Linked DNA regions of Homo sapiens: regions 2, 3 and 4 are each linked to region 1. The links come from fine-mapping of genetic effects on plasma protein levels. A gene starts in region 1. Each other region holds a variant in brackets. All regions are shown on one strand. Distances are from middle to middle.

The links. PIP is the posterior inclusion probability: the model's chance that the variant is causal. The UK Biobank Pharma Proteomics Project read protein levels with antibody pairs (Olink). The fine-mapping took linkage between variants from a reference panel, not from the people measured, so its PIPs are less certain.
Region 2: its variant is fine-mapped to the plasma level of the GCNT1 protein (UK Biobank, PIP above 0.99).
Region 3: its variant is fine-mapped to the plasma level of the GCNT1 protein (UK Biobank, PIP above 0.99).
Region 4: its variant is fine-mapped to the plasma level of the GCNT1 protein (UK Biobank, PIP above 0.99).

The regions. Positions count from the first base shown.
Region 1 is chr9:76,454,563-76,462,744 of GRCh38, forward strand. GCNT1 (glucosaminyl (N-acetyl) transferase 1) reads left to right here and starts at 4,620. Exons shown (of 4, transcript NM_001490.5): 1 at 4,620-4,743; 2 at 5,498-5,615. RefSeq lists silencers at 4,405-4,944, 5,935-6,004 and an enhancer at 5,555-5,664.
Region 2 is chr9:76,524,317-76,532,498 of GRCh38, forward strand. No RefSeq gene overlaps it. Among named protein-coding and RNA genes, the nearest start is that of GCNT1, 69 kb to the left of the region's middle. The variant C/T (reference allele first, on the strand shown) is at 4,494.
Region 3 is chr9:76,494,524-76,502,705 of GRCh38, forward strand. GCNT1 (glucosaminyl (N-acetyl) transferase 1) reads left to right here. Exons shown (of 4, transcript NM_001490.5): 3 at 6,393-6,538; 4 at 7,716-8,182. The coding sequence starts at 7,859. Among named protein-coding and RNA genes, the nearest start is that of GCNT1, 39 kb to the left of the region's middle. The variant A/G (reference allele first, on the strand shown) is at 6,290.
Region 4 is chr9:76,505,759-76,512,902 of GRCh38, forward strand. GCNT1 (glucosaminyl (N-acetyl) transferase 1) reads left to right here. Exons shown (of 4, transcript NM_001490.5): 4 at 1-1,658. Among named protein-coding and RNA genes, the nearest start is that of GCNT1, 50 kb to the left of the region's middle. RefSeq lists an enhancer at 5,392-5,892. The variant C/G (reference allele first, on the strand shown) is at 4,401.

The DNA of each region.
Region 1 (8,182 bases):
CATCTTGAATTGTAATCCCCATAATCCCCACGTGGTGAGGGAGGGGCTTGGTGGAGGTGATTGGATCGTGGGGGCAGTTTCCCCCGTGTTGTTTTTGTGATAGTGAGTGAGTTCTCAGGAGATCTGATGGTCTTATAAGGCTGTTTTCCCTGCTCTTGCTTGCTCTCTCTCATCTGCCGCCGTGTAAGATGTGCCTCTTCCCCTGCTGTCATGATTAAAAGTTTCCTGAGGCCCCCCCAGCCAGGCAAAACTGTGAGTCAATTAAACCTCTTTTCTTTTCTTTTTTTTTTTTTTTTTTTTTTGTTAGACAGAGTCTCACTCTGTCGCCAGGCTGGAGTGCAGTGGCATGATCTCAGCTCACTGCAACCTCCGCCTCCCGGGTTCAAGCGACTCTCCTGCCTCAGCCTCCTGAGTAGCTGGGATTACAGGCGTGCACCACCACGCCTGGATAATTTTTGTATTTTTAGTAGAGACAGAGTTTCACCATGTTGGTCAGGCTGGTCTCGAACTCCTAACCTTGTGATTCGCCCGCCTCAGCCTCCCAGAGTGCTGAGATTACAGGCGTGAGCCACCGCACCCAGCCTTTAAACCTCTTTTCTTTATAAATCATCCAGTCTCAGAAATGTCTTTATAGCAATGTGAAAGCAGACTAATACAGGACATTAAGGGGCTTATTCCAAATTCCAATGCTGGTTTAGGCTGAGACTAGATTAAAGGGCAAAGACCTGATGGAAGGAGAAAAGCCTCATTGAAGTTTGATCAAGTAAGGTATTTGCCCAGATTGATCAGTAGGGGCAAATGGTTCAGCTAACCATTTATAAGATGAGAATGGAAATTTGGAGCGCATGTCTATGGCCTTGTTGTAAGTGTGAAAGGATGTTATCCATGATGATTACCTAAGTCATTTGGGGAAAGGTGGTTCTATGTAGTTAGTGGTTTCTCAGAAAATACAGCCGGGAGAGGATGTTCACTGGTCTCCAGTAACACAAAGTATAGGTCAAGCAACACCATCCCCTTACTTTTTTTTTAATTTATTCTTATTTATTTATCTATTTTTGAGATGGAATCTTGCTCTGTCACCCAGGCTGGAGTGCAGTGGCATGATCTTGGCTCACTGGAACCTCCGCCTCCCAGATTCAACCGATTCTCGTGCCTCAGCCTCCCCAGTAGCTAGGATTACAGGCATGTGCCACCGCACCCAGCTAATTTTTATATTTTTAGTAGAGACGGGGTTTCGCCATGTTGGCTAGGCTGGAACTCGAACTCCTTACCTCAAGTGATCTGCCCACCTCGGCCTCCCGAAGTGCTGGGATTACAGGCATAAGCCACCATGCCCTGCCTCTGTCCCGTTATTTGATTGTACTTGTAACTATAGTTTTATTATGACATTTTAAGAATATATTGCTATTGTATTAATCATTACTATGACAGCTGTGTTTATCAGACACTTTCCCACATCTATAATATTAGGAGAGTTGGGTGTTTGTGATCATGAGTTTGCTCCTTGTGCTGGTTATTGAAGTATGTCTTAGAGTTCAAACTCAAGCTTCTATCTTCTGCTTTGTGAGCCAGGGCTGGGACTTAGCAAATCACATTTCCTATAAGGTTTTGCTTATAAGGGGTGCTTGAGGAGAGGGACTTGCTACTTTATAGCTGCTTACTGTTCCTGTCCATGTTACCAAGCAATGGCTCTTCTCCCTGGCTGCAGCAACAGCTGGTTCCAGTTTCTTAGATTTGTTTGTTTGTTTTAATCCACCCTCTCCCATCCAGCCTCAATATTTACCTTCAGAGATAAAAGCACCAGCTGGGTACCGCCCCCTCCTTTGAGGTCTGACTCCCAGCCAACCAGGGGCCCTCTCCTGGCTGTTAGGTTCTGATAACCCCAACACTTCCCCTCTCCCCAGCTCTGTGCATGGCAGCTGCTTCCTGCAGTTACTCTCTCTCTGTTACTACAATGTTTTTGCCTTGCCAATCTTCATGACCTTAAATTCTCTGTAAAAGTAATTGCTGTGATTTCTGTTTTCTGACTGGGCCCTGACTGATACACCCCTAAGCATTCCAGAAATACCTTCTAAACTACTTGTATAGATTTATGGGTGTATGTTATTGCAGGCATTAAAAATAAGTGGGCTGGGCAAGGTGGCTCACACCTGTAATCCCAGCATTATGGGAGACTGAGGTGGGTGGATCGCTTGAGCGTGGGAGTTCAAACCCAGCCTGGGCAACATGGTGAAACCCTATCTCTACAAAAAATACCAAAAAATTACCGGGCATGGTGGCACACACCTGTAGTCCCAGCTACTTGGGAGGTTGAGGTGAGAGAATCACCTGAGCAGGGGTAAGTTGAGGCTGCAGTGAGCTGTGATTGCGCCACTGTGCTCCAGCCTGAGTAACAGAGTGAGACCCTGTCACATACACAAACAAAATGGATTACACTTATGGTATACAGGCAGTATCCAACTGACAAACAAGATATATTCCAAAAGTTAATTCATAAATCTATTGCTTGGCCACCACCCCTGGTTAATTTATCTATTTTTATTTTGTAGAGGTGAGGTCTGGCTATGCTGCCCAGGCTGATCTCAAACTCCCAGGCTCAAGTGATACTTGTACCTCGGCTTCCTAAAGTGTTGGAATTACAAGCGTGAGCCATTGCAAACAGCCAGCTATATTTTATTTTTAATTAATTAATTTATTTATTTTTGAGATGGAGCCTTGCTTTGTCACGCAGGCCAGAGTGCAGTGGCACGATCTCAGCTCACTGCAACCTCCACCTCCCGGGTTCAAGCGATTCTCATGCCTCAGCCTCCTGAGTAGCTGGGACTGCAGGCACACGCCACCGCAGCTGGCTAATTTTTGTATTTTTAGTAGAGACGGGGTTTTGGTATGTTGGCCAGGCTGGACTCAAACTCCTGACTTCAGGTGATCCACCCACCTCGGCCTCCCAAAGTGCTGGAATTACAGGCATGAGCCACTGTGCCCAGCCCCGGCTATACTTTAAACTTATGTTTAGCAATTAACATGTCAGTATTTTAACTTACAAATGACTCAGACATTTAATGAATATCTATTACTTAATTTAATATGTTCGAAATTTCAAGTCACCAAAAAAGATTTTTAAAACTATTTTTAAGTAGACAAATTTTATAAAACAAATTATTTTTAAAAGTTTATAAACTTTTATTCCATTTACATTTACCTAATCTACTTGCTCTTAACAATTATGCTTGAATTGCTCATGAAAAATTTCATGAGATATTAAACAAAGCTAGCCATTGAAGGAGTTCAGGAGTTTTTCCCAAAATCATTTCCTCTCCCCTAAATTGTCCCTCCCCAATGAAGAGGATACACAAGCTCCTAAAATCTCAGTTTTTGTTGGGGGAGGCAGAGGGAATATTAGTTTTTCTTTTCTGTGATACCCCCTACACGAAATCTGTGTACTTTTTCTCTTGTTAATCTACCTGCAGTCAATTTATTTCATAGACTTAGTTATCCAAGCCTCAGAGAGTAGAGGGGAAGTCTTTCTTCCTCTATACCATCATCTTATGTTAATTTTTGTTGACAAATCAGGCAAGTGTCAAACATATCACAGTCTAATGGCCTCTGAGTTGGATTTTTTTTTTTTTTTTTTTTTTTTTGAGATGGAGTCTCGCTCTGTTGCCCAGGCTGGAGTGCAGTGACACGATCTCGGCTCACTGCAAGCTCCGCCTCCCGGGTTCACGCCATTCTCCTGACTCAGCCTCCCGAGTAGCTGGGACTACAGGCGCCCGCCACCACGCCTGGCTAATTTTTTGTATATTTAGTAGAGACGCGGTTTCACCATGTTAGCCAGGATGGTCTCGATCTCCTGACCTGGTGATCCGCCCGCCTCGGCCTCCCAAAGTGCTGGGATTACAGGCGTGAGCCACCGCGCCCGGCCAGAATTTTTTTTAAACAACATGGAAACAAATAAGACCTCGTTCTGTTTTCTAGGAGCTAAAAATCCAACGAAAGAAGACACAGACACAATATTCCCCTTGTTACAAAGAGAACTGTGTCAACTTTTATAACTGACACAAAGATCTGTGCTATAAGGGCGGGGAAGGTTTTTTCCTACTTTCCACAGCACTGTGGATTGTTCCACAGTTTAATTTGATCTTAATTTTTATGTGGAAATACACATGAATGTAATGAGTTCTTAAATGCTAAATTTAGGAAGCAAGGTTCGTTAGGGGAGAGAAAAAAACACCTACATGGTTATCTCTAAACTTTACATATCGAGAACCTTGGAATTTAATTTTATTGTTGTTCTGTAACATATTTTCATGTTTAAAATCAGAAAAGGCAGCATTTCTCGAGTTTCCTGCTTTCGAGGAAGGGAGGCATAAAATGTTTAAAAAGACGCCGCTCACACACCTCTTAAGAATCAGAGCACAGTGAGGAAGAGGAGCGAGGAAGCACTAGGATCGCAGCGCTACTCCCAGACCACGTCAGTGCCCAGAGGGCGCCCTCGCCTGTAGGCGGGAACCGCGAGTCCGCAGCAAGTCCCCAGCCCCGAGCTCGCGCAGGTGGGCGAGGCGGGGACGTGGTGGGCGGGGCCTAGAAAGGCGGGGCCTCTGGGGGCGGCCCCGGGGCGGGCCACGCTGGTGTGAGGGCTGCAGGCGCAGCTCCGGAGCGCCTAGAGCGCGGCGCGGGGCGGGAGCTTGGTGGAGCAGGAGCGGCTGGGCATCCTCCTGAGACTCCGGGGTCAGACGCCCACTCCAGGTAACCGGCTCTCCCTCGTGTTCCCCTGCTCGGCCGCCCGGCGGTGGGGGAAGGCTGAGAAGGATGGGTGGGAGGGAGCCGGCTCTCAGCCAGTGCCCCGTGGCCCCGGGCGGGCTGGGCTCCCCCGCGGAGGAGGAAGCAGAACCGGGGTGCGCCCGGGACCGGAATGGAGCGGCGCCTCTTCCTTCCACCTTCATTTTCCGTCCGCTCAGTGGGGCTGGGACGCCGGTGCCCCGTGTCCCCTGAAAGTCACTTTCTGGCCTCTTGCCCCTGGTCCGTGTAGCTTAGATGTCGGAGGGGTTGGCTGCGGGCGTGGATAGGCAGGGAACGAACAGACTCGCTGCCATCCCATGGGTGCCAGGGGCTTAACTTCATTTAACTTCATTGAATCCTAACGCCAGCCCGGCTAAGATGCATTTTCACCCCTACTTTACTGATAAAGAGGCCAACGCTAGGATAATAAATGACTCACCCTGGAGCAAACTATTACTAATAAGAAAAGAGACGTTAGTTTAGGGGCTCCGAAGCCTCTCCTTTCCTGCTCCCTCGCTTTCCTTCTTCTCGCGGCAGTCTAGGAAACTCGCGCGCAGGGTCTATTACGAAAACAAGTGATTCGTCTTAAAAGCATTTTACCCCCTCCTAGGTTTCTCTTTCCTCTTTTTTTTAAGTATCTCAGGCAGATTCCTCCAAGTTTTGGTTATTAGGTTTTTGAAATGGAAGAAGCCCTTGCTCACTGCTTCTTTTCTCCTGGCAGCGCTTTCTGCGCAGCACAGGCACCCTCGCCTGTCACGCCTCCCTCTCCTCTTCCCGTCTCCCAGCGTGGATGAGGGCGCCTGCAGATCCCGGCTAGGGCACGGACCGCCTAGGCCGAGGTAGGTTCTGTAGGCACCTGGCATGCTGTAGATGCATATAAACGTTGCCCTGTACACCCTTTGCCTTGTTATTTCTTTCTGCAGAAAAGAGAGTCGGTTTTTTACACATAATGGGGCAAGAGGCCAATTGGGAAGATATATGGTGTTCAAAGAAAGCCGTGGTGCCTTGAGATGAGAATGCGGCCACAGCTTTTTGTGGGCTGAATTTGATGGGTGGGAGGTGAGAGACGTGGTCTGGAAGTTGTCTCTTCGTCTGGCATTCTGCCCCCCTTCCAGAGCTGTTCTGAAAGGCCGGTTTGTTTTATAGAGGGGAGGAGGAGGGCTTAGTAGTTTTTAAAGATCAGTGTAAATTACCTGCTAGGAGCTTAGGCAATTCCAGGCAGGCCCCCCTGCTGGAGGCTTTCGTAACAGATTTCAGTTCTAGCAGGGAGGAAAACTCAGACTGTGTAGATACCTGCTTTTTCTTAAAGGAATTTTTTTCGGGCCCTTAAAATGGTAGTTTTGGGAAACTGATTTCTTAGAAATGGCAAACTCCTTTATTTTAAAATACAATATACCAAACTATGAATTTACTTTTAAAAAGTTTTATTGGCCGAGAGGTTGATATTTTTTCCATTTCATGATGAGGGTTTGACGGTCACTGCCACCTCCTCTGCCCGTCCTTCAACTTGGCCCTGTAAAGGATCTCCTTAGCCTTGGCCCCAAGTTTGTACTAGATTCTATCCTTCATTAATTATAGTTCATTCTTGATTAATGATAGCAATGCTTCCACTCACTTTTTAAGGAGTTACTCCTTTTCCGTTTGTAATTGAATTGCTTAACAGTAAGAAAAACGTTTTTCCCTAAAACTGGGATCACAAAATCCACTTTATCCACATGGACTAAACAGGTAATGCACAAGAGTGCTTGGTTGGGCCCAGGTGACTGCAGAGGAACCTGCTAAGGCTGGGTGGATATTGGCCATTTCCACCGAGTATCCATGCAGGAATTCCCATTCAGCCATACAGTGTAGGCAGCTTTTTTTTTTTTTTTTTTTTTCCACGAATAGCTGAGAACTTTTACTTAAAAATAAAAAATGTAAAGCCTGATTTTAAATATTGGCTCATATTTTTTCCTTTTTAGAACACAAAGAGGGCCGGGCGCAGTGGCTCACACCTGTAATCCCGGCACTTTGGGAGGCCCAGGCGGGTGGATCACGAGGTCAGGAGTTCAAGACCAGCCTGGCCAAGATGGTGTCTCTACTAAAAATTCAAAAATTAGCTGGGCGTGGTGGCTAGGCGCCTGTAATCCCAGCTACTCGGGAGGCTGAGACGGAGAATTGCTTGAACCCGGGAGGCGGAGGTTGCAGTGAGCCGAGATTGCACCACTGCACTCCAGCCTGGGTGACAGAGCGAGAGTCTGTCTCAAAAAAAAAAACACACACAAAGAGCCTGGGCATGGTGGCTCACACCTGTAATCCCAACATTTTGGGAGGCTGAGGCAGGTGGATCACTTGAGGTCAGGAGTTCAAGACCAGCCTGACCAACATGGCAAAACCCCATCTCTACAAAAATATTCAAAAATTAGCCAGGTGTGGTGGTGGGCACCTGTAATCCTAGCTACTCAGGAGGCTGAGGCAGGATAATTGCTTGAACCCGGGAGGCGGAGGTTAGGATGAGCAGGGATCGTGCCACTGCACTCAAGCCTGGACGACAGAGTGAAGCTCCGTCTCAAAACAAAAATCCCACAAAGAATAAAATCAAATTTGTTTCATGCATCATCTGTTTGCAAAACTCTGCCTTAAAAACTGCTACTGTACACGGTGATTATATTCTCCGATGAATGGAAAATTCTGAACTGTGATGTAGATATTGTACATTTTTCATGAAATGAAGTGGTAGAAAACAGAAATTACTACTGGAAATGATCCCTTCTGACTGTCAAATTCTGTTTTCTATGAAGTGTGTGGTATTTCAGCTATACTGTATTTTTTTTTTTTTTATAGAGCCAACCAAGGACTCTTGTCACTATTTTTATTTATTCTAATGAGAAATGTATTCATGGTTCCAGGTCAGTATGTCAAATGTCTAACTCCCTGTCTTAAAAAGGGAGTTCCCAAATGACTGTTCATATAACCATATGTGTTTCTTGTGGAGACTGTCTGTATTCTTGGCTTTGTCACTGGATTTGTGGCTTAGTGCTGTCACGTTTCCTATCTGAGGCAAATGCCATATATGTTTAGACCAGCCTTTCTCAATTGTGGCACTTTTGCCATTTTTGGCCAGTTAAATTCTGTTGTGGGGGCTGTCCTGTGCATTGCAGGATGTTTAGCAGCATCTCTGGCCTCTACCTACTAAATGCCAGTGCACCCTCCCTGCAGTTAAATGACCCCAAATGTCTCCAGACATAGGCAAATGTTCCCCGGAGAACAAAGTCATCTTTGGTTGAGGAACAAAATGAACCTATATTTAAGATGGTCTAAATGTTTCTGAGATGGTCTAAACATTTATAAGCTTAACAATTAACTTGAAACTCTTCAGGACTAGAGAAGCTATTTGTAAATTTAAACATCTGACGCCTTGAAACAC
Region 2 (8,182 bases), 70 kb after region 1:
ATTTGAGTTTCAGATGTTTCTACCATGAATAACAATTTCTTATGCAATTTTAAAAGAGAGCAAAATAAATTCCATGAGGAAGAATTTGACAGATAAGGACCCATCTGTGTCCCCGAGTTCTATTCCCTGCCTGTGGAATCACTCTCCTCATGCTCATAGCCATCAACAAACTGGTACCTACAGAGCAAAATTTCCCTCTGGGTCTCTCAAGCAAGCAGAAACACAATTGCTTTTCTTGATGTCCCTTGGCACAGCTGGAATTTTGTATTAGGGTTCTCTAGAGGGACAGAACTAATAGAATAGATGTATATATGAAGGGGAGCTTATTAGGAGAACTGACACACACAATCGCAAGGTTAAGTCCCACAACAGACTGTCTGCAAGCTGAGGAGCAAGGAAGCCAGTCCGAGTCCCAAAACCTCGAAAGTAAGGAAGCCGACAGTTCAGCCTTCAGTCTGTGGCCAAAAGCCTGAGAGGCCCTGGCAAACTAATGGTGTAAGTCCAAAAGTCCAAAAGCTGAAGAACTTGGAGTCTGATGTTCAAGGGCAGGAAGCATCCAGCACAGGAGAAAGACGGAGACCAGAAGACTCAGCAAGTCTCCTCTTCCATCTTCTCCTGCCTGCTTTATTGTAGCCACACTGGCAGCTGATTAGATGGTGCCCACCCAGACTGAGGGTGGGTCTGCCTCTCCCAGTCCACTGACTCAAATGTGAATCACCTTTGCCATCACCCTCACAGACATACCCGGGAACAATACCTTGCACCCTTCAATCCAATCAAGTTGACACTCAGTATTAACCATCACACCTATCTGAAAGAAATAATTTTGTTAATTCTGTAAATAATTTTTTAAAAATTCTGTTGATAGTTCAAGTCCAAAAAAATTGATTAAAAAAAATTCTTCAGGGTTAAGTGGCTACTCTATTCGCAGTAGCCCTTCCTCTAAGGTTTTTCTTTCTAGTCTCCTTTCCCCCTCACTCAGCTCTTAATTCCTGCCAATAACTGAGAGTGAAGAGACAGTCACCTTGCTTCCGGGTCTCTCAGTCCTCTACTGGCCTTTGGCTCCAGATGTTTCCTTAGCACTTGCATAGTACCCAGAGTATTTTAAGTGGTGACTGATCTGCAGGTGCAGATCTCACTTGGCCCCCATAGCATTGGGACCCATGCAGATTCCATTGTGTTACAGTGACTGTAACTTATTTTAAAAGATCTCAGCATATACATCGTGATATTTTGTATCTGTTATTTGTTTATTTAGAGACAGGGTTTCATTATGTTGGCCAGGCTGGTCTTGAACTCCTGACCTCGGGTGATCCACCTACCTCGGCCTCCCAAAGTGCTGGGATTACAGGTGTGAGCCACCACGCCTGGCCAATATCTGTTACTTAGATGAAGCCAAAACCTTCAGATAATTTATAATGCATAGTTAAGGCATGATCAGTTCACATTAAATCAGAAAAGGTTCCATCCCAGAGATGGCTTCATCAAACTAACACTTTGCTATTAAACATACTGAATGTCTGAAAAGGGATTTCACTGGAGAAACTAGTAACTTTTGTCAAGAAGCAGTTATTTAGCATGATTCTTAGAAATGAGCTCTCATTTGTGATGCTAAAGGTATTCAAAATATGAGGACTGGCTAAAAATACCTTAAAGAGACTCCTAACTCTTGTATGGGTGGGGGTGTAACAATTAAGGAAGACCTAAAATCTAGCTTGCTCCCTGAGTTGTCCTATAAGCAGCTGTTGGTATAGGAGGATTTCTGAATGATGCCAGTTGGAAGAGAGAGACTCCTGCTTCTGAAGTGCTGTTGTGTGCTGCTTGTAAGCATTTCATGCAATGTGTGATTGGATCACCTAAAAGAGTACAGAGCTAGAATTTCATTACACCAACAGGACAGTACCAACTCCTTAGTGGTGACTAATGAATGTTTGCATAGTAAACACCTATGTGGGTGACAGGATTTGGGCTAAGATTTCTTTCCTGTAACCTGATTGTGAGATTATGAAAGCACAGCTAAATCTCACTCCCTCAAATTTCTTTAGTGTCTACTATCTTCTAACAGAAACAATCTAAGGGTTGAGCACGACCAAACTGACTTGAATCAATTCACTGTGTTCTTACACAATTTCCTGTAAGGACAGACACCCTTCATTCCTTTGAGGCACATCCTTTTATCCTTGTCTAGGATCCCTGGTGAGGTCTTCTGACTCTTTCATGCACCACTCAAGACCAATATAATCTTCTCTCATGCTACTTCTGAGCCATGAGGAACCTGGAAGGAGGGCATCTCTGTCCTTTTCGTGGGACAAAAAAGTGAATGTAGGAAATCATATCAGCTAATATCACATATCATCCTTCCATACCTGTAACACATATACAGGAGTTAAACACAATAGCAAGAAAGAAATTCCTTCAATTAGGCTGGGTGCGGGGGCTCATGCCTATAATCCCAGCACTCTGGGATCCAAGGCAGGTGGATCACCTGAAGTCAGGAGTTTTGAGACCAGCCTGGCCATCATAGCAAAACCCCATCTCTACTAAAAATACAGAAATTAGCTACGTGTGGTGGCAGGTGCATGTAATCCCAGCTACTCCGGAGGCTGAGGCAAGAGAATCGCTTGAACCTGGGAGGCAAAGGTTGCAGTGAGCCAAGAGCGTACCAGTGCACTCCAACCTGGGTGACAGAGCAAGGCTCCGTCTCAAAAAAAAAAAAAAAAAAAAATCCTTCAATCAAATTCCCCAGTTCTTACACAGATACCTCACAATAGTGGTGTTATTGATATTTTTGGGTAAGAGGAAAATCTTTCTTTTGCCCAACTATCCCTACCTTGCAAGACTTTTAGCATTCTTTGACCTTGCCCACTAAAAGACAACAGTTTAAATAAAATTTTTAAAAGATCATTAGATATTTTGAAATGCCTCCAAATGGAAAAAAATTGGCCTGCTTAAGAACTGCTGTACTAATGGTCTCCCAACTGTTTCACAGGTCTCAGGGAAGGCCACAGAAGGCTTCAGTGGCTGAATAGAAAAGTAGGTGGTTGAGGGGTCAGCCTCCTATCCTTGCCTCAGAACACAGAACATGCCTCAGGGCAAAGTGACTGACTTCGCAGGCTGTGATGATAGCTGTTATATTCTTTTCGAGAGAGGGGATTTCACTGTCACCCAGGCTTAAGTGTAGTGGTGGGAATCATAGCTCACTACAGCCTCGACCTCCCAGGCTCAAGCGATCCTCCTACCTCAGCCTCCCAAGTACCTGGGACCACCACATGTGGCTAAGTTTTTAATTTTTATTTTCGTAGACATGAGGTCTCGCTAAGCTGCCCAGGTAACTCCTGGGCTCAAGTGATTCTCCCACTTTTGCCTCCCTAAGTGCTGGGATTACAAGCATGAGCCACTATACTGGGCCCCCCATTATATTCTTCATAAGTAAAAGCATATCCAGAAATTTTCATTTCCAGTTGATCTTTACGCTGCTTTCTTGACCATTTCTCTGAAGGTGCCTGGAGCAAAAATGTGTCCAGAATTGGTGGGTTGTTGGTCTCGCTGACCTCAAGAACGGAGCCGTGGACCCTCGCGGTAAGTGTTGTGTCCCGAGTTTGTTCCTTCTGATGTTCAGATGTGTCCAGAGTTTCTTCCTTCTGGGGGGTTGCTGGTCTTGCTGACTTCAGGAGTGAAGCTGCAGACCTTCGCAGTGAGTGGGCGGCGCATCTGGAGTTGTTCGTTCCTTCCAGTGGGTTCGTGGTCTCACTGGCCTCAGGAGTGAAACTGCAGACCTTTGCTGTGAGTGTTACAGTTCATAAAGGTGGCACGTCCAGAGTTGTTCGTTCCTCCCATCTGGAATTGTTCATTCCTCCCATCTGGAATTGTTCATTCCTCCCATCTGGAATTGTTCATTCCTCCCATCTGGAATTGTTCATCCCTCCCCGTGGGTTCATGGTCTCCCTGGCTGGCTTCAGGAGTGAAGCTGCAGACCTTCGCACTGAGTGTTACAGCTCATTGTTACAGCTCATAAAGGCAGCGTGGACCCAAAGGGTGAGCAGCAACAACATTTACTTCTAAGAGGCAAAGAACAAAGCCTTGGCAGAGTAGAAGGGGACACAGTTAACCAAGTAGCCACTGCTGCCTCAGGTGGCGTGGCTTTTATTCCCTTATCTGGCCCCACCCACATCCTATTGATTGGTCCATTTTACAGAGAGCTGATTGGTCCATTTTACAGAGAGCTGATTGGTCCGTTTTACAGAGAGTTGATTGGTCTGTCTTGACAGAGTGCTGATTGGTGTGTTTACAAACCTTTAGTTAGACACAGAGTGCTGATTGGTGCGTTTACAATCCTTTAGCCAGAGGGAAAAGTTCTCCAGGTCTCCACCCAACCCAAAAGCCCAGCTGGCTTCACCTCTCAATGGCACTGGCCGCCAGGACTTTTGGGCACCTACCCCGGGCATTCCGGCAACCCAGAGGGAGCTCGTACCTGGATCAAGCCCAGCAGGCGC[C/T]GAGTGTGGGACCCGCTCCCAGCCCGCGCCCACCTGGAACCCGTGCTGGCCCACTAGCGCCACAGCCCCAGCTGCCGCCCTCGCCTCTGCCTCCACACCTCCCTGTGAGCAGAGGGAGCCGGCTCCCGCCTCGGCCAGCCCCAGAGAGGGGCCCCCACAGCACAGCTGCGGGCTGAAGGGCTCCTGGAGTGTGGCCAGAGCAGATGCTGAGGCCAAGGAGGCACCGGGAGTGAGCAAGGGCTGCTAGCACGTTGTCACCTCTCAAAACCACTTGAGCTTTACCATCCAACATAATATCCTTTCGTTATCTCCTCACTATAGTTCTAGAACTATCATTTGCACATTTTATGTTAGATATGATGGATCAAAATTGTTTACCAGAACTTAAATGGTAAAAAGAGGCCATATTAATTACATACTGCATTGACAATATTGATGATGCTTTGTTTCAGATATACTATATATCGATGTTAACTGCTTTTGAAATATTTGAAAATTAGCCAGGTGGGATGGCTCACATCTGTAATCCCAATACTTTGGGAAGCCAAGATGGCAGGATCGCTTGAGCGCAGGAGTTGGAGACCAACCTGGGCAACACAGTGACACCCTGTCTCTATATTTAAAAAAAAAATTGAAAATTGATACTTGTTTTTGAAATACTTGGCTTTATACATGTGTGTATAATAAAAAACAAGTATCTGCTTTGTGTAGGGCAGCACCAAAGTGGTATGTGTACATTTTCCTGGAAGAACGGAACATTGGAGGAAAAAGTGTTTGGATGCCGTGGGACAAGAGACAGGATTGAATGGGAGAGTGGAAGATAGGATGTTGTCTGTTCCTCAGCCCAGGCTCAGAGACCAGTAATTCACTGGAGTTACTATTTACATGAAGGACTTTGGGAGGCTCCAGGTACAAGCACAGATGTTTCAGGACTTCAGTGAAACATATTACCCTGATTTATAGACGGAGAAGCTTCCCCCTTCCTGGGTGCCTGCAGCACAGCTTTTAACACTGGGTTGGGATGGAAGGTTCTCCAGTGCTGTGTGGGCACCATGAGGAACTGAAAGTTTGGAAACAGCACCTAGATAAAAAGGCTGAAGTAGACACCAGCTAAAGTAATACTAACGAGGCATCTCCTAACAGGGCTTCTTGGCAGTGGAAAGGAGCAGCACAGAAAAATCTGACTGGGGCTGGGCGCGGTGGCTAACGCCTGTAATCCCAGCAGTTTGGGAGTCCAATGTGGGCGGATCACCTGAGATCAGGAGTTCGAGACCAGTCTAACCAACATGGTGAAACCCCATCTCTACTAAAATACAATTAAAAAAAAAAAATCAGCCGGTCGTGGTGGCACGCACCTGTAGTCCCAGTTACTCGGGAGGCTGAGGCAGGGAAATCACTTGAACCTGGGAGGCAGAGGCTGCAGTGAGCCAAGATTGCGCCACTGCACTCCAGCCTGGCAACAGAGCAAGACTCCGTCTCAAAAAAACAAACAACAGCAACAAAAAAACAAGAATTAGCTGAGCAGGGCGGCGTGTGCCTGTGGTCCCAGCTACTAGGGGGACTGAGGCAGGAGGATCTCTTGATCCCAGGAGGTGGAGCTTGCAGTGAGCCGAGATGGACCTACTGCACTCCAGCCTGGGTGACAGAGTGAGACTCCCATCTCAAAAAAAAAAAAAAAAAATCTGATTGGCCTTGGTACTGAGCACTTGGAAGGGGTCTCTAGTTATGGCTGGGGAAGCTTTAAAAGGTGGGCTGAGATCCTGTAGTCTGTAGAGGGGGCCCACTCAGCTAGGGAAATGTGGATGCTATCAATGTTAACGTCACTGAAGACATTTCATTAACCACAGGGCTGTATTTTTTTAGGCATTTGAACCAACCTATTTAGTAACTGCCAGGGCCACATGAGGACTTTCTTAGGCCCCAACCACGTTGCCTCTGTGGGCTCCTTCCTTCTTAAGAAAAAACAATAAAAATTGTATTTCACAACTGCATTAGTGTAAATATAAATATAATCCAGGCTGGGTCCATTATAATATATTCATTTTTTTCTTCTGATTTTAACGGAAATAAAAATGAAACCACTTTCTGTAGGCCTCTGAAAGTATTGTCGGTCGCAGGCACTCTGCCTGCTGTGACTAATGGAGACATTGTCCCTAGTAACTGCTTTCCTTTCGTTTTTTTTCCAGCAGCTTCTTCCCTCTTCCCTCACTTATGGCCCCTCCTGACAATTTTGTTGATTTCTATCCAAATCAGCCCTTTCACTAAGATTGAAAAGTTGCTTGTAAATTGGCCATGTTTAATCATTTGCCAGATATTTCAATTTTTAAAAAAACATTGTTATTAAATTGTTGATTTCTCAAATGGATTTGCTATTTTGAGAAAAAATATACTAACTATATACTCAAAATTGATTTTTTATAAAAGCAGGAAGCTACAGTTTTCTATGGGTACATGGACCCTAAAAACCTTCTGTTGTTTTTCCTAAATCCCAAACCCAGATTTTTTGTGTGGGTTCTAGAATCAGGGAGAGCAGTTCTGTGGGCTCTACTATTCAGAAAACACCACGGTCAACTGAGTCAACATAATCAGCCTTCCTGCCAACCACCCTTCAGCAACCACTCAACTATTTACTCCTTGATGGGAGGGCACTGCCAGAAAGTTTGCTCTCAGATTAAAAGCAAAACAAAATAAAAACAGCGATGTTTTCAGAAAAGAACTATTTCATTAGGTTTCTCTATTTGTCCTCTCCTCTGTCCACATTGCTAACATACTGGAAAGAGGTTGCTGGACTGGTTTGGTTTCTTAGGTGAGAGGAACATTAACTGGCCCCCAATTCTCAACCAGGCTGTTCGCTTTTCTGGCTTTAAAAGAAAATCAAGGGTGGGTACAGTGGCTCACCCTGTAATGCCAGCACTTTGAGAGACCAAAGCAGGAGGGTCACTTGAGCCCAGGAGTTCAAGACCAGCCTTGGCAACATGGTGAAACCTTGTCTCCAAGTCCTGAGTTCAGGCAATCCCGTCACCTCAGCCTCCCAAAGTGCTAGGATTATAGGCATGAGCCACCATGCCTGGCCTTCTTCAAAAACTTTAGAAATTAGCCAGGCATGGTGGCCTGTAGTCCCAGCTACTTGGGAGGTTGAGGTAGGAGGATTGCTTGATCCCAGGAGTATGAGACCGCAGTGAGTCGTGATTGTGCCACTGCACTCCATCCTGGGTAACAGAGTGAGACTTTGTCTCAACAACAAGAGAAAAGAAAGTTGACCAGGTGCGGTGGCTCACTCCTGTAATCCCAGCACTTTGGGAGGCTGAGGCAGGAGAATCATTTGAGCCCAGGAGTTTGAGACCAGTCTGGACAACATGGTAAAAACCCATTTCTACAAAAAATTTAAAAATTAGCTGGGCATGGTGGCCTGTAGTCCCTGCTACTGGGAGGCTGAGGCGGTAGGATTATTTGAGCCCAGGAATTCAAGACCACAGTGAGCCATAATCTCACCACTGTATTCATTCCAGCCTGGTCTCACAGAGTGAGACCCTATCACCAAAAAAGTTCCGGTACTTTGGGAGGCGGAGGCTAGAGGATCGCTTGAGCTCAGTAGTTTGAGACCAGCCTGGGCAAAATGGCGAAACTCTCTCTACAAAAAAAAAAATAAAATTTTTTCAAAAAAGAAAACCCTAAGTAGAAGAATATTC
Region 3 (8,182 bases), 40 kb after region 1:
AGTAGCTTTTGTTAGGCCTGCTAGTCTGAGAAATAATTTTGGCAAAAATTATTTCTTTCTGATTGGTGAGCCCAGGTGCCTAAAGAAGGGAACAGAGTCCTGAAGTTTATACTAGAAATCATTCTTATAGGAGAAACTAGAAAAGCACCAGAGACAGGGAGTGGTTTTTATAATAGGGACTAGCCTCGGAGAAGAGAGCAAGAAGTTTGTCTGACAGGCTTTAGGAGCCAGGAGGCAAGGGTCAGGATAGATAGGATAGATGGGCGAGTCTCACTTGGGTGATATGACTTGGAGGAGAGTTCCGCTCTTGGCTACAGGGTCAGCCAACTTTCTGTCAGGACCCCGGAGCTGAATGGCTTTCCTCTCTGTCAACCCTGGGCTCAGCCTGGAAGTACAGGAAAAGCGGAAGCTGTTTTCAGGCAAACCAACACTCCCAACTCCAAAGAGTTGGGGGTTGTTAGGTAGCCATTTCCCAGAAAACCTGACACCCGTATCTTTAGTCCGGCAGCCGCACTAGTCGCTTTTAACTGGCCGATAGGTGCCCAGTATTTAGCCACCGAATTCTAAGGAAAAATAGGACAGAATAGCAAGCGAAAGGGGTCCGATGGTACTCACTGCTTGGTGATGGTCCAAGGTCACCAAGATGTGTCCAGCATTGGTTCCTTCTGGTGGATTCTTGGTCTCGCTGACCAAGAATAAAGCCGCGGACCTTTGCAGTGAATGTTACAGCTCTTAAAGATGGTGTGTCCAGAGTTTGTTCCTTCAGATGTGTCTGGAGTCTCTTCTTTCCATTGAGTTCATGGTCTCGCTGACTTCATGAGTGAAGCCGCAGACCTTTGCGGTGAGTGTTACACCTCTTAAAGGTGGTGGGGACCCAAAGAGTGAGCAACAGCAAGATTTATTGTGAAGAGCAAAAGAACAGAGCTTCCACAGCATGGAAGGGGACCAGAGCAGGTTGCCGCTGCTGGCTTGGGTGGCCAGCTTTTATTCCCTTATTTGCTCCCGCCTATGTCCTGCTGATTGGTCCATTTTACAGAATGCTGATTGGTCCATTTTACACAGTGCTGATTGGTCCATTTTTACAGAATGCTGATTGGTACATTTACGATCATCTAGCTAGACACAGAGCACTGATTGGTGCATTTACAATCCTCGACCCAGGAAGGCCAGCTGGCTTCACCTCTCAATAAGGCCACTCAAATTCAAGAGGGAGGGAATTTGACTACTTCTTGGTTGGGGAGTGGCAAGGTCATATAGCAGAAGAAAATGTTGGGTGAAAATATTGGCCTGGCTGTCTTCAGAAAATATATTGTGCCTCATTAATATTTTTTTAACATATTTTTAACTTTATATCCTGAGGATGTTAGTGGTAGTTTTCTATATCCTGAGAATGTTAGTGGTAGTTTTCCTCTCCCTGAACAGTCTGTTTCATTTGACTGTTTGGGGGTCTCCCAGTTTAAGCAAGATATTTAAGCCTTATTTCTCTTGGCATGCTTGGATTCCCCAGTAAAAAAAACTCCTGCCCTGGGCTGACAATCAAAGTTCTGGGAACTAATATGGATAAGCAAGCTGGAAATGGAGAAGGCTATTCACTGTGCCTGGGTCCTACTGTTTTCTGGATGGGAACTGCTTTCCATTAGGCCTGGTGTGCCCTGGAAGGGAGAGCCTCTGCAGAGACTACATCTTGGATGGGTCTTTGCCAAGTTTGAGGTAGAAACCCAGCTGCTTTGTAAAGAGCTACTAGTGGATACTTTGAACAAAACAAAAAACAAAGCAACACCACTCCTCCATCATTCTCCGCATCCCCCCTTCAGAGGGATCCGTGCAACCAGCACCAGTTCCTGCACCCTTTGAAGATCCTGCAGTGTAAATAGAGCTGGTCTGTTCTTTCCCGCCTGTCAGCCTGGGATTTGTGCATATGCTTTTTCAGTTTCCTCTCGTCCATCTGCTTTTCCAGTTTGATTTCTGCCTCCTGTCTCCCTCTCCCTGAGGTCATTTTGTCCATCTTCCCACTCCATTAAGCACTCAGCGGCACCCTGTCTATCTGGTGGTGCTGACTCTCTTTATGTTGGAACACTTTTAGTGACCATATCGTCACCTTAGGGGCACCTGATACCTATCTTCTTTTTCCCTTCCTTGACTAGCTTTCCTTCTTATTGACTATATAAAAGATAAGTATTTATTTTCAGTATTCTTAGAATTTAGTATTTTTGTATTTCTTGGTCTTAAAAGTCAAGTACCAAGAACCATTACTTTCAGGTACTGGCTTTCCTCTGTTCCAACTCACGGTGGAATTATTTCATTTCTCATTTCTTCTTAGGTTATGCGATCTACTTAAAATTATATAGGGTAGTGTCCTCAAGGAAGTCTCCTCTTCCAGGAAAGGACCAGTGTCCACTGAGGGACCTTCTTCAGGACATGCCCCAGGTCAGTTGTTGGATTAGGCAGGCCTTGGGCGAGTGAGGCTTAGTATGGTTTGGGACTTGAGTTTTTCTTGCTTTCCCAGAATTCATGAGCTTTTGTCATTTAGAATGTTTCTTACTCTTCTGTAGTTGTCCTCACTGGCAAATCCCACCAGATATTCTTCAGTGAGTATGCTTCCTGAGTGAAATATAAAGGTGAAGGAACATTGGGCAGAGCAGTATTAACTACCCATGGCCACATTTTTGTTAATTATTTTGGTATTTATTCCTTGTGTGGGTGTGTAATTTTTGGTAAAGTTGCATTAAAATAGTATAGCATGTGCGCATTTTTACTTCCCTTTAAACTTCTTTTCTTCTTGGAAATCTCTTTGGCTATGAAATCTCATTTTCCTTTCACCCTTCTGATTCTTAGCCGAGTTTTACTTAAGAAAACGTTGTATGTCTTGAAATTAGGTTGGTTAATTACAATTCCTTCGAATGATTTGACTTCTGTATTCACCCTGATGATAAATAGACAAAATCAAAAGCATTTTTGACAAAGTAATGCTTTCTCACATATTTAGCTTCTTTATAGACACTTACCCATCTTGTTAAAACCCAAAACTAGTGATTTTACGTTGTAAAAAGCGTTTTTCAAAGCATGTGGGCCATGTAGGATGTAGACGACAGTGGTAAAGACCTATGCCTTTTTTGAGGTGAGATCCAAGTGTTTGGTTTTGAACTTTGTATTTTCTATTTGGATTTCGAGGTGACCCTTTCATGTACCCACATTCCATAAAATCCTGTTTAAGATAATTCTACTTCTCCTGTTTAAAACAAAAAAAAACCCAAGACTCAGCGGTGTCACAATTTGTAACTTAAAATCTGTTTACTTTGGTGAACTTTATTGTTACTATTCTAATAATAGCTTTATTGAATATTCACATACCATAATGTTTACCCTTTTAAAGTAAACAATATGTTCACAAAGTTCTACATCAATCTCTACTATCTACCTAGAGAACTTTCAAAGGAAACCTTTGTACCTACCAGCATTCATTGCCATTCCCCCATGTCCCCAGCCCCTGGCAGACACTCATCTACTTTCTGTCTATATGGATTTGCTTTTTCTGGACATTTAATATAAACAGAATTATAAATGACTATTTCTTAGCCTAATGTTTTCTAGATTATTTATCTACATTGTATGGAACTTGTGTGAGACCTTCATATCTTATTATACCCGTATAATATCCCATTTTATGGATATACCATATTTTGTTTATCCATTCTTCAGTTCACGGTCATTTGGCTTGCTTCCACTATTTTAGCTATTAGTAATGCCATTATGAACATTTGTATACAAGTTTTTGCGTGAATATATGTTTTCATTTTTCTTGGGTATATACCTAATAGTGGAATAGCTAGGTCATATGGTAACTCTAGTTTTAATTTTCTGTGGACCCACCAAACATTCTAAAGCAGCTTCACCAAGCATTTACATTTCTACCAGCAATTTATGATGGTTCCAATTTGTCCACTCAATGAGATAAAAAATACACTAGGGCTGGGTGCAGTGGCTCACCCCTGTAATCCCAGCACTTTAGGAGGCCAAGGCAGGCAGATCACCTGAGGTCAGGAGTTCCAGACCAACCAGGCCAACATCATGAAACCCCGTCTCTACTAAAAATATAGAAATTAGCCAGGTGTGGGGGCGGGTGCCTGTAATCCCAGCTACTTGGGAGGCTGAAGCAGGAGAATTGCTTGAACCCGGGAGCCAGAGGTTGCAGTGAACCAAGATCGCAGCACTGCACTCCAGCGTGGGCAACAAGAGCAAAATTCCAGCTCAAAAAAAAAAAAAAAAAGAAAAAAAGTGTATACACACACACTGTCAGCCTGTCAACACAGTTTTATCATCATAAATTAATGTAGCTGTCTTTTAAATCAGATGGGAAGAGAGTTACAAAGAAAATTACATTCATACTATAAATTTGTCTGTATATATATACCTTTACTGCTGCTTTCTATTTTTTCATGTGGATTTGAGTTGCTGTCTAGAATCTTTTCATTTCTGCCTGAATATCTTCATTTAGTATTTCTTGTAGGGTAAGGCTGCTAGTGATAATTTTTTTTTTAATTTATCTGGGAGTATCCTAGTTTCTCATTGTTTTTGAATGATTTTGCTCATTATAGAATTTTTGGTTAACAATCCTTTTTTTTGAGATGGAGTCTTGCTCTATTGCCCAGGCTGAAGTGCAGTGGCATGATCTTGGCTCACTGCAGTTTCCACCACCCAAGTTCAAGCGATTCTCCTGCCTCTGCCTCTCAATTAGCTGGGATTACAGGCATGCACCACTACGCCCGGCTAATTTTTGTATTTTTAGTAGAGATGGGGTTTCACAGTGTTGGCCAGGCTGATCTCAAACTCCTGACCTCAAGTGATCCGCCCACCTCAGCTTCCCAAAGTGCTGGGATTACAGGCATGAGCCACCACACCTAGCCAACAAACTTTCTGCGCGTTGAATATGTCACTCACTGCCTTTTGGTCTCCATTGTTGTTTATTTGAAGTTGTTAATCATTTTCAGGATTTGTTGTATAATCACTTTTCTTTAACATTTTCAAAATCCTTTGTCCTTGTCTTTCAACAGTTTGATTATGAAATGTCTAGGTAAGGATATCTGAGTTTATCCTCTTTGGCGCTCATTGAACTTCTTGGATGTGCAAATTAATTTTTGTTTCAATATTAATAGACTATTTTTAGAGCAGTTTTCTGTTTACAGACAAATTACACAGAAAGTACAGAGAGTTTCCATTTACCCCCTCACTGTTTCTGCTGTTATTAATATCTTACATTAGTGTGGTACATTTTTTACAATTAAGCCAGTATTTATACATTATTATTAATTATTGATACATTATTTTTTTCAACTATTTTTCTACCTCCCCAAACTTGTTATATAAATTATTATTAAGGGTTCATTCTTTGTGTTGTACATTCTATTTCTTTATTGAAATTTTCTCAATTTGGTTAGATACCATACTCGTGCTTTCTTTCAGTTATTTAGTTCTTTGAACATATTTATAAGAGCTGATTTCAAGTATTTATTAAATCCAATGCCTGGGCTTCCTTGGGGACATTTTTATTGACTGCTTTTTTTTGTTCCACCCCCCTGTATGTGGACCAGACTTTTGTGTTTCTTTGCATGCCTTGTAATTTTTTTTTTGTTGAAACTGGATAGTTTATAATGTGTCAACCATGGAAATCAGATCTCTACCCCTACCCTGAGGAGGGTTTGTTGTTTTTGTTATTTGTTTAGTGGCTTTCCTGGACCAGTTGTCTAAAGTTTATATTCTTTGTTATTTGAGACCCACTCAAGTTTCTCTCAGTTAGTTAGTGGTCTGCTAATGATTCCATAGAGATTTCCTTATGTGCCTTGAACCAGTAAGGGGCAGGAATTACTTAAAGGCATACTTTTTGTAGTGTTTTGATATTTTAGTGGTTGAAATTCTTATGTTTTGTTACCGAAGCTCCCCGTGGTCGCTTTCTGATAGAGGTGTGGAGTGGGGTGGTGATCAAGATTGTTAGAAGAAAATGAGATGAGCAACAAATTCAGCTTCAGGATTGTCATTAATTTGCCAGTGAGCATTGGGAATCTTCACAGTGGGGGAAAGGATATGTTGGATTTTCTAATCATACTGGACTGTTAAACTGTTCCTTGGTATACATTAAGGGAAATGCTGCTAGAGTTTTCTTTCAAAGAACTTAACCTAAATTTCAGGGTGTTTTCAAATCTTTAGCAATCCACAAACATAGAATTAGAAAAATAAGTAAGACTAGAGAGAAGGAAATTTTAAAAGAGAAAAGTTAACCACCCATAATTTTGAG[A/G]AAAAAAAGCAAATATGTAGGATTAGTTCACCAACATATTTTCTGAGTGTGTGAATACTATGTGTCCATATATCCCTTGTCACATTGTTTTTTAATTTCACAGATTTCTTTAAAGACTCGTGCAGCACATCATTATCGCTGGATGCCCGGACATGTAATACACCTGACAGCATGTGAAGTGCTCAGAATGGGGCAGGATGTCACCTGGAATCAGCACTAAGTGATTCAGACTTTCCTTACTTTTAAATGGTAAAAAGTCTAAATACTTTTCTTAACATTATTTTATATTAATGATGGTCAGTTATTCATTTTTATTTGTATTATTACTATTCACAACTCATTTCCTAATGAAATAGTTAAGTTTCTGGCATTAAAAACTCGTGTCAAATCTCTAGAAATCTTGTTATGAACAGATTTATAACGGTCAAATTGGTAGTACTTGACTTTCTTTTTTTAGAACAGCAGCGCTTATCAGCTGTAGAACCAATTGCCAAGTTATAAAATTGATTTTTGAAAACAAAGCTATTTAATGTTTGTAAGCATTTCATATAGTAAAAGTGGGTTGTGTTCCTGGAATTTGAATATAGATGAAGGTCTGTCATAAATTACAATTTGTATACACTATTGTTTTCTGCAAGACTTAGTTATTACAGTCTGTTATAACTAATGCAGAAAACGCAAGCTGTATCTCTCTTTTGGATTATGAATACTTTGTTTTCTTGTAGTTTCTGGCATGGAACTAAACTCATTGTGGGACTAACCCAACACAGTCCCAAACGGGGCTTTGTTTCATCTGAGCCTTTTCAATCCAATTTGAAAATTCTGTTGACTTGCCCTTCCTTCAAAGATTCTTAGAAGTCACAACCATTTCCAAACTTCTCCCTAAGTATGCCCCAAATCCTAAATCAGCAAAAAGCAGAATGGATCTGATCTCTTTTAGGGCTGCTGACACCAGCTAATGGACATTAAAACATGTCAGGAGGAACTTAAATTACTAACGATTTCAAGAACAAGGGGTGGTAATTCTGGCACAGTGTCAGAAACTCATCAACTATAGACTGTTCAATCATTATTGCCTAGGCGTCCAACTATGGTTTTGCACCTCAACATACCAAAGAGGTAAAATGCTTGTTGTTAGATATTCTAGTGCATCCATGTACTGGGATTTGGGGTTTGTTTTTTCTTTTGTTTTCTTTTTCAATCTGTGGTATAAATACTAGAGACTGTGGGCTTCCTGTACTACTACAATTTATCCTCTGATTCAGCCACTTTGTTTTTGTTTTAAACCTAACCTCATAGCAAAGAGGACAGTTTTTTGAGCCTGAGAAGATTTATTGTGAAAAACTCTCTCTCTCTCTCTCTCTCTGTATATATATATATATATATATATATTTATTTATATTTATAATTGCTTCTTTTATTTCAGTGCTGCTCTTCATTTCAAGATGCCGTTGCAGCTCTGATAAATGCAAACTGACAACCTTCAAGGCCACGACGGAGGGAAAATCATTGGTGCTTGGAGCATAGAAGACTGCCCTTCACAAAGGAAATCCCTGATTATTGTTTGAAATGCTGAGGACGTTGCTGCGAAGGAGACTTTTTTCTTATCCCACCAAATACTACTTTATGGTTCTTGTTTTATCCCTAATCACCTTCTCCGTTTTAAGGATTCATCAAAAGCCTGAATTTGTAAGTGTCAGACACTTGGAGCTTGCTGGGGAGAATCCTAGTAGTGATATTAATTGCACCAAAGTTTTACAGGGTGATGTAAATGAAATCCAAAAGGTAAAGCTTGAGATCCTAACAGTGAAATTTAAAAAGCGCCCTCGGTGGACACCTGACGACTATATAAACATGACCAGTGACTGTTCTTCTTTCATCAAGAGACGCAAA
Region 4 (7,144 bases), 51 kb after region 1:
CAAAGTTATTTATCTTAGCACATTTATTATGTGTGACTGCATCTGATTTATATTTAAATTGGCAGGTTTTGAGGGATTTTTTTCTTCATCATAAATGTAAACATAGGATTTTAGAGTCTATTTCCCCAAGCGCCACATTATAACTGTAAACTTACCATCTTCTATGTAGCTGTGATATCTCATCTTTCTAAAATGGAACTTGTTAAAAAGTGTTCAAACACTATCCCTAATGCCTGCGGCAGAATTTATATACGATCCATTCATTGGGGCTCAAAGTATCTTTTAGACTTTTAAGGACAATTTACAGCAAATGAAATTTATGATGCTGTGACAAGAAATTTAAAGAATCAAAACGATGGTTTGAAAAGGAAACCTATGATACATGCAGGAGAAGCAAAACCCAAGTGATTGGTGAGAAATATAGAAATTATTTAAATTACTTTATAGTAATTATTAAACACTAATTTTTGTACTGTCATTGAAGGTGTTTTATAGAGAAATCTGAGAAATCACATTCACAAATTAGAAGTCAAACATGGCCAGGCACAGTGGCTCACACCTGTAATCTTCAGGATTTCAAGACCAGCCTAGCCAACATGACGAAACCCCATCTCTACTGAAAATAGAAAAAAAAAATTAGCCAGGCTTGCACCTGTAATCCCAGTTACCTGGGAGGCTGAGGCAGGAGAATCTCTTGAGCCCAGGAGGCGGAGGTTGCAGTGAGCTGAGATGCCACCACCACACCAGCCTGGGTGACAGAGTGAAACTCGTATCTCCAAACAAACAAACAAAAAGTCCTTAAACATATGTGAACAAAAATTTTGTGATGGAAGGATTCTAGTTAATGAGTATTGCATCAAGATTTACATCTTTCTTACTAAGGAAAAGAGTTAATAAAAATTGTTCTTTATTTTACAGGCAGTTACTGAGGCTCTTCCCAGATCTCAGTAAACAGCCACTCAGCCTTGAAAATGGAGTGTTGTTGTTTCTAAACATATATTTATGTCATTTATTAAGTACAGTTCACTTAAATAACATAAGTAGATTTTCTCTTGTAGTGATTTGGGTAGGAAGAGGCCATGTTTCAGTTCGTTTTCTCTGTAGGGTCGATTGAATTGGACCTTTTCAGTTGTTCAGAAAAATAAAAATAATTTCTCATATTAAATACAGACGCTCCTCAACTTATGATGTGGGTAGGTCCCAGTAAACCCATTATAATTTGAAAATATCACATTGAAAATGCATTTAATATCTCTTACCTGAAATCATAACTTAGCCAAGCCTACCTTAAATGTTCTCAGAACATTTAGCCTGCAGTTGGGCAAAACCATTTAACACAAAGCCTATTTTATAATGAAGTGTTGAATAGCTCATGTTATTTACTGAATACTGTTGTGAAAGTGAAAAACAATGATTGTATGGGTACTCAAAGTATAATTTCTACTGAATGCATATCACTTGTGCACTGTTGTAAAGCTGAAAAACCGTTAAGCCTCTACGATTTTTAAGTAAGTTGGGGACCATCAGTTTAAAATAAATGCAATACTATTTCATGATAAACATGGTCACTGTAAGTTTTACTCTTTTGAATGAGGGTGCGACAGAATGCAGTTAGAATCAGTTCATATCACCATTAAAATCATCCATTCAGAAACCAAGGCCTTGTCTGCAGAAATTTTTTATTCCTTTTTCTGTTAGCAACCAGCACTCAAACGTTAAATTTGGTAGTTGATGTACTTTGTAACAAATGAGTGTGTGCAAGTAGTGATTAAAAATAAGATTCATTCTCAAGGCACAAATGTCAGAGGGGAAGAGAGTATCTCAAAAAACAAACTAACACAGAGTATGCAAAAAGATTACTGGGAGGCTTTAGAAGTATGCAATTGAATGGCCAGTATTGCATTCTAGGACATTAGACACTTCAACTGTGTCTACTGAAGAAAGAGAACAGTTTTCCAGTTAGTAGCATAGGTTAATAGGAGCTATCACCTGCTGTTGGTTTGAATGTGATGGGCACAGCTGAGGGAAAAGGGACCCCATGCCCCCAATATTGAGTGCCTTCTCCAGATATTGTCACACCGGATCTATTAAACACTTCGAGGTGTTCTTTAGCCCTAAATTAGATGAAACATTCTAGAAAGTGGCAAAATTGATGAATTTCAGATTTTTCTCTAAAGCTTGAGAGCTTTACATATCCTTTATAAGCCTGCTTGTGAAAGATATTGTTTTTAATACATGCTTTAATGTTTTCAGGGCTTGTCATCAGAATATTGATACAATTTTTTTTAATGCAGTAGGACCCAAACTAGAAATGAATTACAACTATTGGGAAAGAAAAAACTATTGTTATTATTGCAGATGATATAATGGTCCAAGTAGAAAGCCTGGGAATCTCATCTTAGAATTAATATGAAATTAGCAAAAACCTCCAGATATCCAAAAGTTAATAGACAAAGGTAGCTTTAAGATATAATTGTAGTATATCACCATTTGTTGTGGCAACAAGCTTTGTCACATTTATAGACAAACTGAGCATGTGTGCAGAAACTATACAAAGATAACAGAAGACCTGTATAGATGGAAAAATACACTGCTCCTAGCTGATAAAATGATTTTTTTGTTTGTTTTTTGTTTTTTGTTTTTTTGAGACAGAGTTTCACTCTTGTTGCCCGGGCTGAAGTGCAATGGCATGATCTCGGCTCACCACAACTTCCGCCTCCTGGGTTCAAGCAATTCTCCTGCCTCAGCCTCCGGAGTAGCTGGGATTACAGACATGTGCCACCATGCCTGGCTAATTTTGTATTTTTAGTAGAAACGGGGTTTCTCCATGTTGGTCAGGCTGGTCTCAACCTCCCGACCTCAGGTGATCCGCCCGCCTTGGCCTCCCAAAGTGCTGGGATTACAGGCGTGAGCCACTGTTCCCAGCCCTAAAATGAAATATTTTAAACATTTCTTCTATTTGTGAATTAACTGAATGCAAGTCTATTAATGTTCTCAATGGCTTGAGAGTATCCTAAATTTCATCTGAAAGATGTGCAAGAATAGGAATATTTTGAAAGGAAAGTCATGAAGTCTTAAGATACTAGATATAAAACCATATTTCACAGCTAAAAAATATTGAAAATGTACTAATAGTTTACATTTGAACCCTTAGACCAAGGCAGTAGTAGCCCCGAAATAGATGTGAGTATAAATAAAATGTTCCAAAAATCCTAGGAACATAAGGAAGGTAAACTTTTGGAGAATACTAGATTATGGCTTTATAATGTACACCAAAATCCAGATGAAAAATATGAAAATAAGCTAGAAGAACATACTAGTGACTATCTTTGGATGGGTGACTGAATTTTCCAAATAAAAGCAATAAGATTCATTAAGGAGCAGATTATATATTTAAAAATATATATCTTCTGAATATGAGAAAGTAAAAGGCAAATGAGATTAGAACATTTGCCTACAGATTTTGGAAGAGGGAGGCTTAATACCTTAATATGGAAATGATTTATGCTAATATTTAAAACCAGTTATATTGAGATAATTCACTTATACAGTTTACCCATTTAAAGTGTATATCTAAGTGGTTTTTATTATAACCATTACCACAATCCATTTTATTTTTATTTGTATTTTAAATATGGAGACAGGTTCTCACTATGTAGCCCAGGCTGGTCTCAAACTCCTGAGCTCAAGCGATTCTCCCACCTCAGCCTCCCAAAGTGCTGGGATTACAAGCATGAGCCACCACGCCTGGCCCATAATCAATTTTAGAACCTCTTCATCACCCCAAGAAGAAACCTTGTACCCTTTATAGTCACTCCCCACAACTCCCTCATACTAACATAGTTGTTTTTTTTTTTTTTTTTTTTGAGACGGAGTCTCGCTCTGTCGCCCAGGCCGGACTGCGGACTGCAGTGGCGCAATCTCGGCTCACTGCAAGCTCCGCCTCCCGGGTTCACGCCATTCTCCTGCCTCAGCCTCCCGAGTAGCTGGGACTACAGGCGCCCGCCACCGCGCCCGGCTAATTTTTTGTATTTTTAGTAGAGACGGGGTTTCACCTTGTTAGCCAGGATGGTCTCGATCTCCTGACCTCATGATCCACCCGCCTCGGCCTCCCAAAGTGCTGGGATTACAGGCGTGAGCCACCGCGCCCGGCCCATAGTTTTTAAACATGAAGACTCCAAGAGAAAAATGAACAAAGGATGTAACAATTCATAGAAGTACAATAAGAAATGGAAATGGCTAATATGAAAAATTATAATTCAATAAAGATGATTCAAATTAAAAGAAAATTTCTGTATCAAATTACCAGTTTTGGTGTTTGGTTTTTTAAAATATCCTTGATACTTGAGAGACCATATTGAGAAATAAGACTACATATAATGTGATCTCATTTATGAAAA[C/G]TATTGAACAGAAAGGAGCATTCAGAATTTCCTGAAGTCACATCTTCATATTTTGAGAATGACTCCTTCCAGCTCCATAAAATTGTTGCCAAATATGTATTTGGAGCTTTTTCCACATATGGTTTGCCTTAGGGAGTCTTATGCTCCCCAGCCCCAGCCTTTATTTAGGGGAGGAAGGAGCCATGATTTCTCTCCTCTCACCTACTGACAGGCATGTTTTAGATGTAACCATTAGTGCTTAGCCGTGTCAAGGTCCTATACTCTGATTAACCTTGTAAGATAGCCCCATTGTATACCCACAGTGAAGAGAACCTTTTGCAGCAGTAGCCTGAATAACCAATCCTATAGGCCACTGGCACTCTCCATCTGACTACAAGAGCTGAGGATGATTAGATTGGCAGCAGTTTTGCCTCTAGCTCCTTGGAACGTATCTATGGGATTTCATTTTCTGATATCCAATACATGTTGATTTAATTGCTTGTTAGGTGAGGGTGGCCTGTTTCCTTGAGCTGCATGCCAGTGGGAAACATATGTTCCCCTTCAGCAGGAGGACTCCAGAAGATTCATACTCTCCAGTAGCCTCCATCCGAACATATGACTGTGGGAGTAACTTGGATGAGCAGTATTGGTGCAGGAGGAGGATCTTGTTTAACTAGATAATTTTGTGCATTTCATATGAAGGTTTATTGACCTTTAAGATATAGAAACCGGTGTTTTTTGTTTTGTTTTGTTTTAATTTCTGCAAAACACGGATACCACTATCACTGGCTTAAACATTATTGGGTATTTATAATTTATTTCCTTTGCCATTAGACTCATTAGTAAACGCTTCCTGGCGCAGTTAGAATTCCCTTAATTGACTTGATGCAAAGAAGATGTGTTTTCTCTTCAGGAAAGCTTTTCGTGCCCCTCCACTCAAAGGAGAATGCCCCTTTAAGTATGTTCCTCAAAGCCCACTGCGCTAATCATGGCAACAGCTGGCATTTGTTGAGCATTTACTTATTGCATGTTCAAAGCACTTTGCATGTATTACCTCCTTTCACTCCATAACAACCTTGGGAATGGGCACTACTTATAAAAAATTGGCCCAATTTACAAAAGAGCAAAGAAAGGCATGAATCCATAATAAACGCTTGAAAAAATGTTTTTCTCTGATCCATTCATCTCTATTTTACCATTTTAACCATCCACCTTCTTCCCCAGAACCTGGCCTGCTGTGAGTGCAGCACATCTCTTTGAGACAGGGTGTCACTCCATTGCCCAGACTGGAGTGCAGTGGCACGATCACGGCTCACTGCAGCCTGGACTTTCTGGGCTCCAGCAATCCTCCCACCTCAGTCTCTAGAGTAGCTCAGACCACAGGCATGCGCCACCATGCTTGGCTAATTTTTGTATTTTTTTTTTTTTTATAGAAATGGGGTTTCGCCATGCTGCCCAGGCTGCTCTCAAACTCATGAGCTCAAGCCATCCACCCGCTTCAGCCTCCCAAAATTCTGGGATTACAGGCGTGAGCCACCACGCCTTGCCTGCATTTCTTGTTTAAAGCAAGATGTGCTGGCTGGGCGCTGTGGCTCACGCCTGTAATCCCAGCACTTTTAGAGGCCAAGGCGGGCAGATCACCAGGTCAAGAGATCGAGACCATCCTGGCCAATGTGGTAAAACTCTATCTCTACTAAAATTACAAAAATCAGCTGGGCATGGTGGCGTGCGCGCCTGTAGTCCCAGCTACTCAGGAGGCTGAGGCAGGAGAATCGCTTGAACCCGGGAGGCAGAGGTTGCAGTGAGCCAAGATTCCATAATGCCTTGAGAAATAAAAGGGATAGAAACAGAATTAATCCACTAGTCTTACTGAAACCACCCAAAGGGTGTGTGGAGAGAAAGAGGAGAGAAAGGAGGAAGAGCAGTAAGCACCAAGTGGATGAGGGCAGGCGGAAGGCAGGCTCAGGGAAAGGGGAGAAGCAGGAGAAGAGCAGGGCTTAGAAGCTATCAGAGGTTCCTTAGCAAATATGAATATACAATGAAGTATTATTATTATTGTCACCATGCTGTACATTAAATCCCCAAAACTTATTCCCTTATAACTGAAAGTTTGTACCGATTGACCCAAATCCCCCATTTTCCCCATCCCCCCCCACGCCCAGCCGCTGGCAACCAACTTTCTACCTTTGTTTCTATGAGTTTGACTTCTTTAGATTCCACATGTAAGTGGGGTCGTGCAATATTTGTCTGTGTCTGGCTTATTTCACTTGACAGAAAGTCTTTTAGGTTCATCCATGTTGTCATAAACAGCAGGATTTTCTTATTTTTCATGGCCAAATAATATTCCATTGTGTACATGCATGTGTGTGTTTGTGTGTCACATTTTCTTTATCCATTTAGCCATCAACACACACTTAGGTTGTTTCCATATCTTGGTTATTGTGAGTAACGCATCAATGAACATGGGAGTGGAGAGCAGATATCCTTTTGACATACTGATTCATTTTCTTCGGTTATATGCCTAGAAGTGGGATCGCTGGATTATGCAGTAGTTCTATTTTTTAGTTATTTGAGGAAGCTCTATACTGTTTTCCATAATGGCTGTACCAATTTACAATCCCACCAACAGTGTTCCCAGTCCTACCACATTCTTGCCAATGCTTGTTATTATTTGACTAATACTAGCTATCCTAACAAGTGTGAGGTGATTTCTCATTGTGGTTTTAAGCTGCATTTTCCTGATATTGAGGTTTTTTTCTTTTTTT